Homo sapiens: one gene and its partner. The protein of the gene in region 2 interacts with the protein of the main gene of each other region in a biochemical or structural test. Each region holds a gene or a part of one and is shown on either strand. Other genes may lie near its edges.

The links. Proteins that work in one complex are often made in the same cells at the same time.
Region 1: of the proteins of OSGEP (region 2) and EMCN, one has a biochemical effect on the other in vitro, tested with the Homo sapiens proteins (one study listed by BioGRID).

The regions. Positions count from the first base shown.
Region 1 is NC_000004.12:100,506,893-100,511,929, forward strand, and holds part of EMCN (endomucin isoform 1 precursor), read right to left. Parts: intron 4,451-5,037; exon of another isoform or gene 4,241-4,450; intron 1-4,240. UniProt on the Homo sapiens protein: Endothelial sialomucin, also called endomucin or mucin-like sialoglycoprotein, which interferes with the assembly of focal adhesion complexes and inhibits interaction between cells and the extracellular matrix.
Region 2 is NC_000014.9:20,445,222-20,449,714, forward strand, and holds the end of OSGEP (tRNA N6-adenosine threonylcarbamoyltransferase), read right to left. Parts: intron 4,046-4,493; coding exon 3,950-4,045; intron 3,793-3,949; coding exon 3,743-3,792; intron 3,591-3,742; coding exon 3,512-3,590; intron 2,951-3,511; coding exon 2,885-2,950; intron 2,774-2,884; coding exon 2,683-2,773; intron 2,470-2,682; coding exon 2,394-2,469; intron 2,300-2,393; coding exon 2,201-2,299; intron 2,059-2,200; coding exon 2,019-2,058; 3' UTR 1,180-2,018; downstream 1-1,179. UniProt on the Homo sapiens protein: Component of the EKC/KEOPS complex that is required for the formation of a threonylcarbamoyl group on adenosine at position 37 (t(6)A37) in tRNAs that read codons beginning with adenine.

The sequences.
Region 1 (5,037 bases), on a different chromosome or scaffold from region 2:
CCTAGATTCATAATATCATAGCTTCTGCATTTTTTTCATGCTCACAAATGCTAGTAATTTAATCCTCTATATATTCTTAAACTCTTCTTACAGTTAACAGTTCTCTGGGAACCAGAAATATTTGTGTTTGGATTATCTAATGCATCTTGATCCCACTTGAAACTTTGAAGGGAATACCATAGTTGTTTCTCTAATAAAACTATTTTTAAATGTGGCTAAATTTCTTGAGTACCCTATAGGATAGAGGCCCAGGATCATTCAATGTTAATGAAAACATGAGGGACTTTAATAGTAGAAGTGAAAGCAATTGATATGATTTTATAATGATTAGGAGATGAAGGGCGCCTCTTTGCGAGGAGATTGTCAAACAAAGCTGGAATTTAAGCCTGTATGCCTAGTGAGATTTCAGCACTTTGACTAATATTTGTATTAACCAAATCTGTCCTTGGCCAAATTTATCTTAAACTAGTACAAGCAAAAAATAATAATAATAATTTAGATTAAATTTATACCAATATTTTCCCTGAAAGCCCTAGACTCTAACACTTTCCTAGAAAGGTAAACATCTCTGCTTACCTTGTGGGTATGGGACAGTGAAAAGAGCACACTGCACATTGAGTGGATGGAGGGAAGAAGGATTGGCAAGAGCTTTAATGGCAAGAAGGAAGAACTCCACTGGGTACTGGCCTTGTAAGAGTGGCTAGAGGGCCTGTGCAGAATACTCTTCCCAAATCCTTAGACCAATTAATGAGTTTCCCCATCTCCTCTTCCCAGCTTCCCAGCTGTCTTAGACAGTTTCTGTCTTTCTCCCAGCATCTGTCATTTCCTCAATCTCTTTTAACCTCATTTTTATTCTCAATCTTTTTTCCGGATGTTGGTTTCTGTCCCCACCCTCTCTCCAAGTCTTTTTTCTAGCCCCACGCCTAACAAATATCTCCCATTTGCATAAAAATGAGACCACATGGAAAAATGAAAAACATGTTTTTTTGTTGATGTGTACTATGAGAAATAACTCTCATGACAGAGAATTGGCCTTTTACATGCAAAGTGGACACTTTCTAACATCCCTAACTGAAAAATCTCTAAAGGAAGTAAACATTAGGGAATAGAATAAAACATCTTGCTGCAGAAGAAGCGTATCTAGTGATAACAGGATGAAAATGAAGCAAGATAACTTCAGGCAAAATGTATAAGAATTGTTTGTTACACAAAGGTTATGGAACTGTAGATCTGGAAGAAATCTTTCATATCACTTGATTAAACCACACTCATTTTATAGACATGAAAATTAAAGCCTTGAGAGGTTAAAAATTTTGCCTGCCTCAGTCACACAGCAAGCATGTGGCCCCTGGTAACTAACCCAAGTGCTCTTGGCTCAAAGGTTCAGTGTACTCTTCACCACTTCAGTATGCTGGCTTGTCACACCAGTCAGGGCTCAATGGGAAAAATATAAGAAAGTTGTTATATTGCCAAATATATTCTTTTTTTTAGTGAAAGTACCCTTTCTTTTATGTAATATTCTAATGAATAGCATATGTATTATGGGGAAAGGATTCTGTATTTAACAAAGAACAAGGTGGTTTATCTCATGTCAATTGCACAAAGGGCGTTTGGATTATTTACTGATCTAGGAACAACTGAATTATGTGGTGCTTTTGCTTCTGCACAAGATTAGGATAAAGTTAATTACTCAACATACTGAATTAAGACTTCAGAGTTGGAAAGGCAAACTATGTAATCAAAGTGCCTTTACAATTGAATTTTCATAATTTTACAGTCTATCCTAGTGGGGGTGGGGACTAATCTGATCTAAATGGTTCAGAATTACCTGATGAATTACAGACCACTAATTTTTGTATATGTGAGCAAGTAATAGGAATGACTTGGCACTTGTGTTCAGATATTCATGACACTCTGGTATGATTTGAACAGTCACTATAATTCAAAGTTAAGTATTTTCTGCTATTTATACAATAGTAAGAGGGTAGGTCAACTTCATAAAGCAAATCAAATAAGTTTAGCCAACCAAACGAGTATTCCAAAATACACTTACTGCTTCCGCTCTACAGAGGCCAGGGATAAAAATAAATATTGCCCTCAAGTAACTGAAAACAAATCTAGGAATGCCTTGGGTATTTTCAACTCTTCTGACTTTTGAAGAAACAGAATTCTCCAAATTAAAGCAAGGGCTAGCTACGAAATATCACCTATGTGCCCAAAAATAGGTCTTGGGAAACACACACAAAAATAGTCACTTAGAAATTGTCCTTGCTTCCTATATACAGTTAAGTTGTAACAAAACCTAATAATAGATGTCTAAATGATTTTTTCTTCTCCTTTGTATACCTTAAGAATTTTAAACTTTAATTGATATAAAACTTGTACCCAACAAATGAGGCTGTCAAAAAATGAAAAGGAAAGAGAAAAAATAAAAAGTTCACTGATCACATCATTTAATTATTCTAATCCCAATAATGCAATTAGTTAATAAATCTTTAAGTTAGTTCACTCTGTGCATTTAAAAAAGGTGAGTCCCACTTTTAAAAACTGGGTTTGCAGAGAGAGATAATTGGAGAATTCTCATGGTTGTTTAGAGTTGTCACAATGGCTTTGAGCTCATTAATGTAGGAGTGGCCTTTGTATCCTGGGGAGAGTGCCCAAGAACTCAACGCTTATGTTCTCACACTTGCTGAACACCCTAGGAGGGCGATTTCACAGTTCATACCACAAAAAAGTATTTCTTTTCCCACTTCAGTTAAAAATAAATTCAATGTGTGATACAAATGGTTTTCCGTGTTTTGTGTGTGTGATTTTTATAACTGAAGCATTATTTCAACACATGGCCATTTGGATGTGAACAGCCATAAAAATTATGTAAAGGTATTATGGCTAAAATAGAAATGATACAATGGCAGTTAAAGGCCCAACTAGTAAGGGAAAATTCTGAAATTTATGGAACGGTTTCCTATTTCTCTCTTGATTCTGTGAGTTAATGTTAACTTATACAATAATAGCTAATGTTTTAGTAATTTATGATGTGCACAGTATCTAAAATGGGTATTCCCATTGTCATGTAACACCAATACCATGTCAATATGTATCTTTCTTCTCATTTTTTACATGCAGAAACTGGGATTAAGAAAGATTTAATGTCTGGGCCAATTTGAACATACTTAGAAGCTAGACTCAAACTTAAGTTTTCACATTAATACCGTGTTTCCTTCCACTAACATATTCAACCTCTCAGATTAAGCAACACTCAATACTTTATGAGAGTAGTAACAATATTTGAGGATGTTGACTATTTTCAGACTAAAAAGAGTTTTAATTAAATACAAACACAATTTTGCTTATTAATTTGAGTGATTAGTTTATAGATGAAGGTAAATAACATAAATCTGAAAGATATTTGAGAAAATACACCTGTTTGCATATAATGTATAAAATTGTGCCTGCATATATTGTAATTAAAATATTACTTGGCAGTCATCTTACAACAGTTCTATTGTGAAAAATTTTCAGATGCTCATTTTTCACTTTGCGAGAATTAACATTGTAATTGTTTAAATATTTTCTGCTTCTGGATTGGAATCAACTTAGAAATAAAATATTTCATCTACGGTGCAGGATATGAGTTCCATTAACTCAGCAAAACTTTATATAACATTTATCTCATATCAGACGCTATTCTGGGTGCTTTCTGCATATTACCTTGTGTGATTCTTCCAATATCCCTATGAGGTAATTCCTTGTAGAGATATTGCAAGAACCACATAAGGCAATCATCTCCATTTTACAGCTGAGGAAGCCAAAAGTTGAGTAACTTGTCCAAGTTTATACAGCTAGTAAGTGGCAGAGCTGGAACTTGAACTCAGACAATCTGTCTCCAGAAGCATTATAAACGTGACACCAAGTGATTAATTCACTGATAGCTATTTCCTCTTTGTTTCTTTCCTTCTTCTCCAAGTCCCATATTAGCTTCACTGACATTTATAGCCAAGTACATGTTTTTTTCAACAAACATAACAATGACTGGTAGGCAAATGCCTACAACTCCTTCCAACCCATCCCCTAAGAATTAATTGAATCCAGAATATTAAGAAAACATTATTGCTAGGTAAAAATTCATTTATGGCATTATAGTCTTAGTTGTCAGTTTAGAAGGCTGAAGTTGCTGTGAGGCGGAGTAGTGACTTCTAAATTACTCGAGCGGTAAGTCTTTATCCTTATTCTTTTTCAGAAAACTCAACTTACTGAAGTGTCACTACATCAGAAGGTAGCTGAAGAGCAACAGTCCTTGCTTTGATTTTAAGCCACACCAGCCTTGTGTAACTTTATACTATTTCCAAGCATCTGTTTCTTAATCAGTAAGATGGGATAAAGCTGGCCTTGAAATTTGTGATGGAAGTAATGTGTGTAAAGTGCCTGGCACAATAAATGGTAGATGTTAGTAGATGTTGTGACAATACTTCTTTGGGTTAACTTGGACCGTTCCCAACTGTGATCTCCATTCTCTAGTCTTTGACACAACTAATACAGGTTTCAGCTAGAGTATGACTGATTCAATGGATTTAAAAAAACAGTTCACATTTCAGTTGAGAAGTACAGAAAGAATAAAATCAATGACATCAACATTTTTTACTACTAACCTCACAGTATAATTCATTACTGCAAACAGGCAAATAATTGCCTTAGAACAGAATCTGTTTAGAATATTGTTAAGCTTATGTAACAAAAGATTGATCAAAGATATTTCATTTTCTTTGAAATGAAAAGGAAGAAGGGTAGTACATATTAATGAGAGTGTCAGAGAAACCAAAACTAATCTTTACTTAGATATACACTACCATCTAAACTAAAATGTTCTCATCAAGAAAAATAATAAATCCTGGGTTTTCCTAAATAGCAGAGCCTGAAACAAGGGCTTCTGTTCAGACAGTTTATAAAAAAAAAAATAGGAAGAGGAGAAAAGGACTAAAACAATGAAACTGGAGCAGGAATATAAGAGAAAAGCATTTATGTATTCAGTGACTCCAT
Region 2 (4,493 bases):
TGGGTACAGATACTGGAAGATGGTTAGTTTCAGGGGCAAAAGCTTGTAAATGTATACTGATTGTTTCTATTTTCTTACTGAAATAGGAACTAAGGTAAGAGTCAGAATAGGGGGAGATGTTAAGAGATTTGAGGGGTCAGAAGGTATGAAACAGTCACTAGAAAAGAGGGCAAGTGAAAGGACTAGAGAGATGGCATATTTCTGGGTGGCATAAAGGACCCATTTTAGTGTCATGGTCGTAAGTTTGAAGTAAGATCAGTCAGCATGGCTATTTTTTACTAGCCCTTTCAGCTGCATGGGTCTAAAGTAGGTGATGAGTTGAATATGACAAAAGCAAAAGAGGGGAAGGGAAATGAGGTGGATTATGGGAATTTAGCTGAAGGAGGGAAATAAAAATACGTGGGGGATAAAATCTGCAGAAAGGAAGTATGATCAATGGACCGTAGGTCCTGGTGAAGGGATGAACTGTTGGATTTAGCATACTAAAGAAAATGAACTGGAAGAACAGGAGGTGGTGGTAGTCGAGAGTGGGACGTCTGAAACTGAGATGTGGAGGATCTGCAGCTCCAGAACATGACCAAGGAAATAAGTGGCTGAAGCGGGTGTTAGTATGATCTACCTGAATACTGAAATAAGATTTATGACAAACGTGGTGTTCGTATGGTAGTTTCTTTCAAAGCAGAAGGGTACTAGGGATGAGGGATAATGGTCTGGAAACAGTATGAGGACACGTGCACCACCTCCAGGCCCAGTGGGACACTGGGTGTGGAAGGGAAAATGCCACCACTACTGAGGTGGTAGGAGAAGCAGAGTCCTCATAAGAAACCAAGTCTGAAGAGCATAAATGTGAAGGGAACGTTCAGAGAAGAGGTTGAGGACACAGAGAATTTGACAAATGACTGGCCATCAGTTCCAGAGGGCACAGTGGAAGAGCTTCTAGAGTTGGAAAAGGTAGGTAGATGGAGACAAAACAGAGTGGAGATACATGGTTATTAAGTGTAAAAGATGAGATGACTCAGTAGTTTAGGACTAATTGTGATGATTGATATCAACATCAATAAGATTAAGGGTATGAGATTCGTTCTGTTGTTTGTGGTACGGAGGGATGTGCATCTGCGGGCATTCCTCAAGCCTGCCGATGGATGTGCATGTAGGAGAAAGTATACGGAGTAGAGGCAGTTTTAGAGTTACAAGTTAGACCAATCTCCAGGCTGTTTGTTTGTTTGTTTTTAAGAGACAAGGTTTTGTTCTGTCACTCAGGCTGGAATGCAGTGGCTCAATCACAGCTCACTGCAACCTCAAACTCCTGGGCTCAAGCTATCTTCCCGCCTCAGCCTCCCTTGGAGCTGGGACTACAGATGTGCGCCACCATGCCCAGATAATTTTTACATTTTTCAAATAGATGGTGTCTTGCTATTTGCCCAGGCTGGGCTCAAACTCCTGGGCTCAAGGGATCCTCCTGACTTGGCCTCCCACAGCACTGGGATAACAGGTGTGAGCCTCCAGGCTATTTTGAGAGAAGTCTTGCACACCTACTTCAAAGAATTTAAATGAGAGAATGAATGTAAAGCAGTTAGCACGGGACCCGATGCTATAATAATAGTTATGATACTACTATTGTTGCCAGGCACAATGGCATCCTTACTCAGGAGGCTGAGGTGGTAAGACTGCTTGAGCCCAGTTCGAGACCAGCCTGGGAAACACAGCAAGATTCCGTTTCTTAAAAAAAAAAAAAAAGATACCTCATTCTTGGTTCCACAGCAGCAAGCTCCAACAAGAATTTATCCAGCACCAAATCTACATTGGTCCTGAACAACACAATCCAATCACCAACATACAAAACCAAAAAACCAAAAATATTTTATTGCTGAGTCATCCTGGGGTTCCATAAAGGACCCCAAGCCTTGCTTGGAGTCTATAGCTTTGCTAGGACTCCCATGACATCAGGATAGAGATTGAGGCACGGGGTCCTTTGGGTTCCGATTAAGGAACTATCTACTCTGATTCTGTTGATCTTATTAGTCCCTCCAGGTCACCTCTACTTCATCTGTCCGATACCTGTGGAAAAACAGAAGAAACATGGTGGAGAGCGAGCCCTTAACATCCTTCATTCTTCTCTGCCCTCATGTTCCTGGACTCTTCCCTGCTGTTTTTGTCTATGTCCCAATAATCTACCCTCACCAAGAGGTGAATCACTCACCTCTGTGTAACCCCAGAATCACTGAGTGGGGTCCTGTGTCCAGCCCGAAACATCTCCCAGCCAGCCTGGGCTATCATCGCTCCATTGTCAATACAGAATCTGGGATGCAAGAGAGATGAAAATTGGGATCTAAGGGTGGAAAATCACTATAACAGGAGAAGTAAAAAAGAAACCAAAGGGAAAGTGTCTTTACCTCTCATCTGTAGCAAAAAGCCGGGCTCCACGTTCCTGGCACATTGTTGCCATCATCTCCTGTAGCCTCACATTACCTACAAAGAGGCAGGGAACAGGATTAGCTTAGTTTTAGCCATCTCTTCATGGTCCAGCAGAACACGTCATGTGCACTCACTTAGAACAATGACATAGGGGATTAGGGGCAAGGATTGGGAAGCCTACTCCAAACGCTTAATGATTTAGAGTACCAGGAGGAAGACGCATAGTGTTAAGAATAGGAAAGAGGAACACTTTTCAATAATACATACACCCCACTCCTCCCACAATGAGGGCCTCCTGGGAGCCACAATGTGCCATGGCTCGCTCTGTGATCTCTACCAGCATTGCAAACACAGTTTCCTGTCAGGGACAGATAAGGAGAAAATATTAGAGGGGCATCCCAGATTAGTTCTGCTCTACAATATAAAACCTTCAGCCCCAACTTTCTGTCCCAGTTTTTTACTGCATTACCTGCAGGGAGAAACACAGATCCTCAGGAGTACACTCGCCTGTGGCCAGCATCCGATGGGCTACATCCTACAATTAAAGGGAAAAACAAAAGAATCAACAAATCATGGTTTTGGGATTACACGAGAGCAAAAATTAATGCATTCGGAGGGTCATCATGTTTCACCACAATTCAAGTTACCAGCACATCCTGTACCACATTCCCTTCACTGGCATCATGGCATAGAATGAGCAGCTTTCATTTAAGATGCAATCATTACTTTTTGAATACTTGTCCTGACATCTCTCACCCCTTACTTATCCTGCTTAATTTTTCACCTGTACTCATCATCATCTGGCACTTCATTATTTTCCTCTTTCTTATCTCCCCCGCCCCCCATTTAGAATCTAAGCTCCATGTAGACAGGGATTTTTGTTTTGCTCCATGCTGCATCTCTACTATCTAGAACAGCATGTGGCACACAGAGATATTCAATGAATACCTTCTAAATGAATTTACCCAGCACATGATATGGACCAGTACTGTGCTACATGAATATACTGAGCTATACGAAATATAATCGTAAGTAAAACAGATATGCTTCATTTAAAAAGCATGAAAGTGCCCGTCTCATCACCTCTCACACTCACCTCAATGAAAGACAGGATCCCTGAGAATGAGACGTCCATCCCCTTTACAGTGTATGGCAGCTCAACTAGCTTCTTGCCTCTATGTGGGAATAAGCGTACGAGGCACTAAGCCTACAGTCAGCTGGCTTCTCACCCTCCAAAGCCCGTCCCAAATTTTGTTAATATATACCGTATATGGGGAAATCCCTGAAGCCCCAGCAGCCAGCCTGCTTCCACCTTATGTCCCCTTACCGCTTTGCCATCTGTTCAATGTTGTATCCTGGACTTGGGTCGTTAGAAATCTAGCAGAAGAAAAAAATAAGGAAGGAGGGAATGGAAGAGGATGAAATCAGATATGCAGGAAGCATAAGAAGCTCATTTACTATTTCCTCCCTCCACCTCCATGGCTTCCCAAAAATTCACCCACATTTTATGTTCTCTGCAGCCCCACTGGCTTACCTTCAGCACTCGAGCAAAACGATCCAGACAATTACCCACTGCAATATCGATGGTTTCCCCAAAGATACGGTAACGATGTTCCGAGTATGCAATCACCTAAGGGTGATGAGGAAGTCCATGAAACCCCAAGTCTGTAAAGAGGATTATTTGGCTTTGGGAGAAAAACATAGCAGAGGATCAACATGACCACCAGGGCTTCCAATAAGAAGTGGAAGAAAGGTGTTTCCCAAATGGTGAATGGGTAGTTTTTACAGCTCTGATTTGAGAAGAAATCTGTATACCCTGAGGATTCCAGGAACAGATTCCTAGACAGTGTAGGTTCAGGCAGAAATAAATTGTCATTTCAAATACATTGGTTTTCCGGCTTAGAAGTTCCTAATATATCCCTTAAATGCAGTCTTGATAGTAGGTAACCGGCTTTTCTGCTTGGAGGCAGAGAACATGAATCCTTCTAAATTATGACACAGTGGCAGTGGTAATTTTTTTTTGAGACAGGGTCTCGCTCTGTCTCCCAGGCTGGAGTGGAGTGGTGTGATCATAGCTC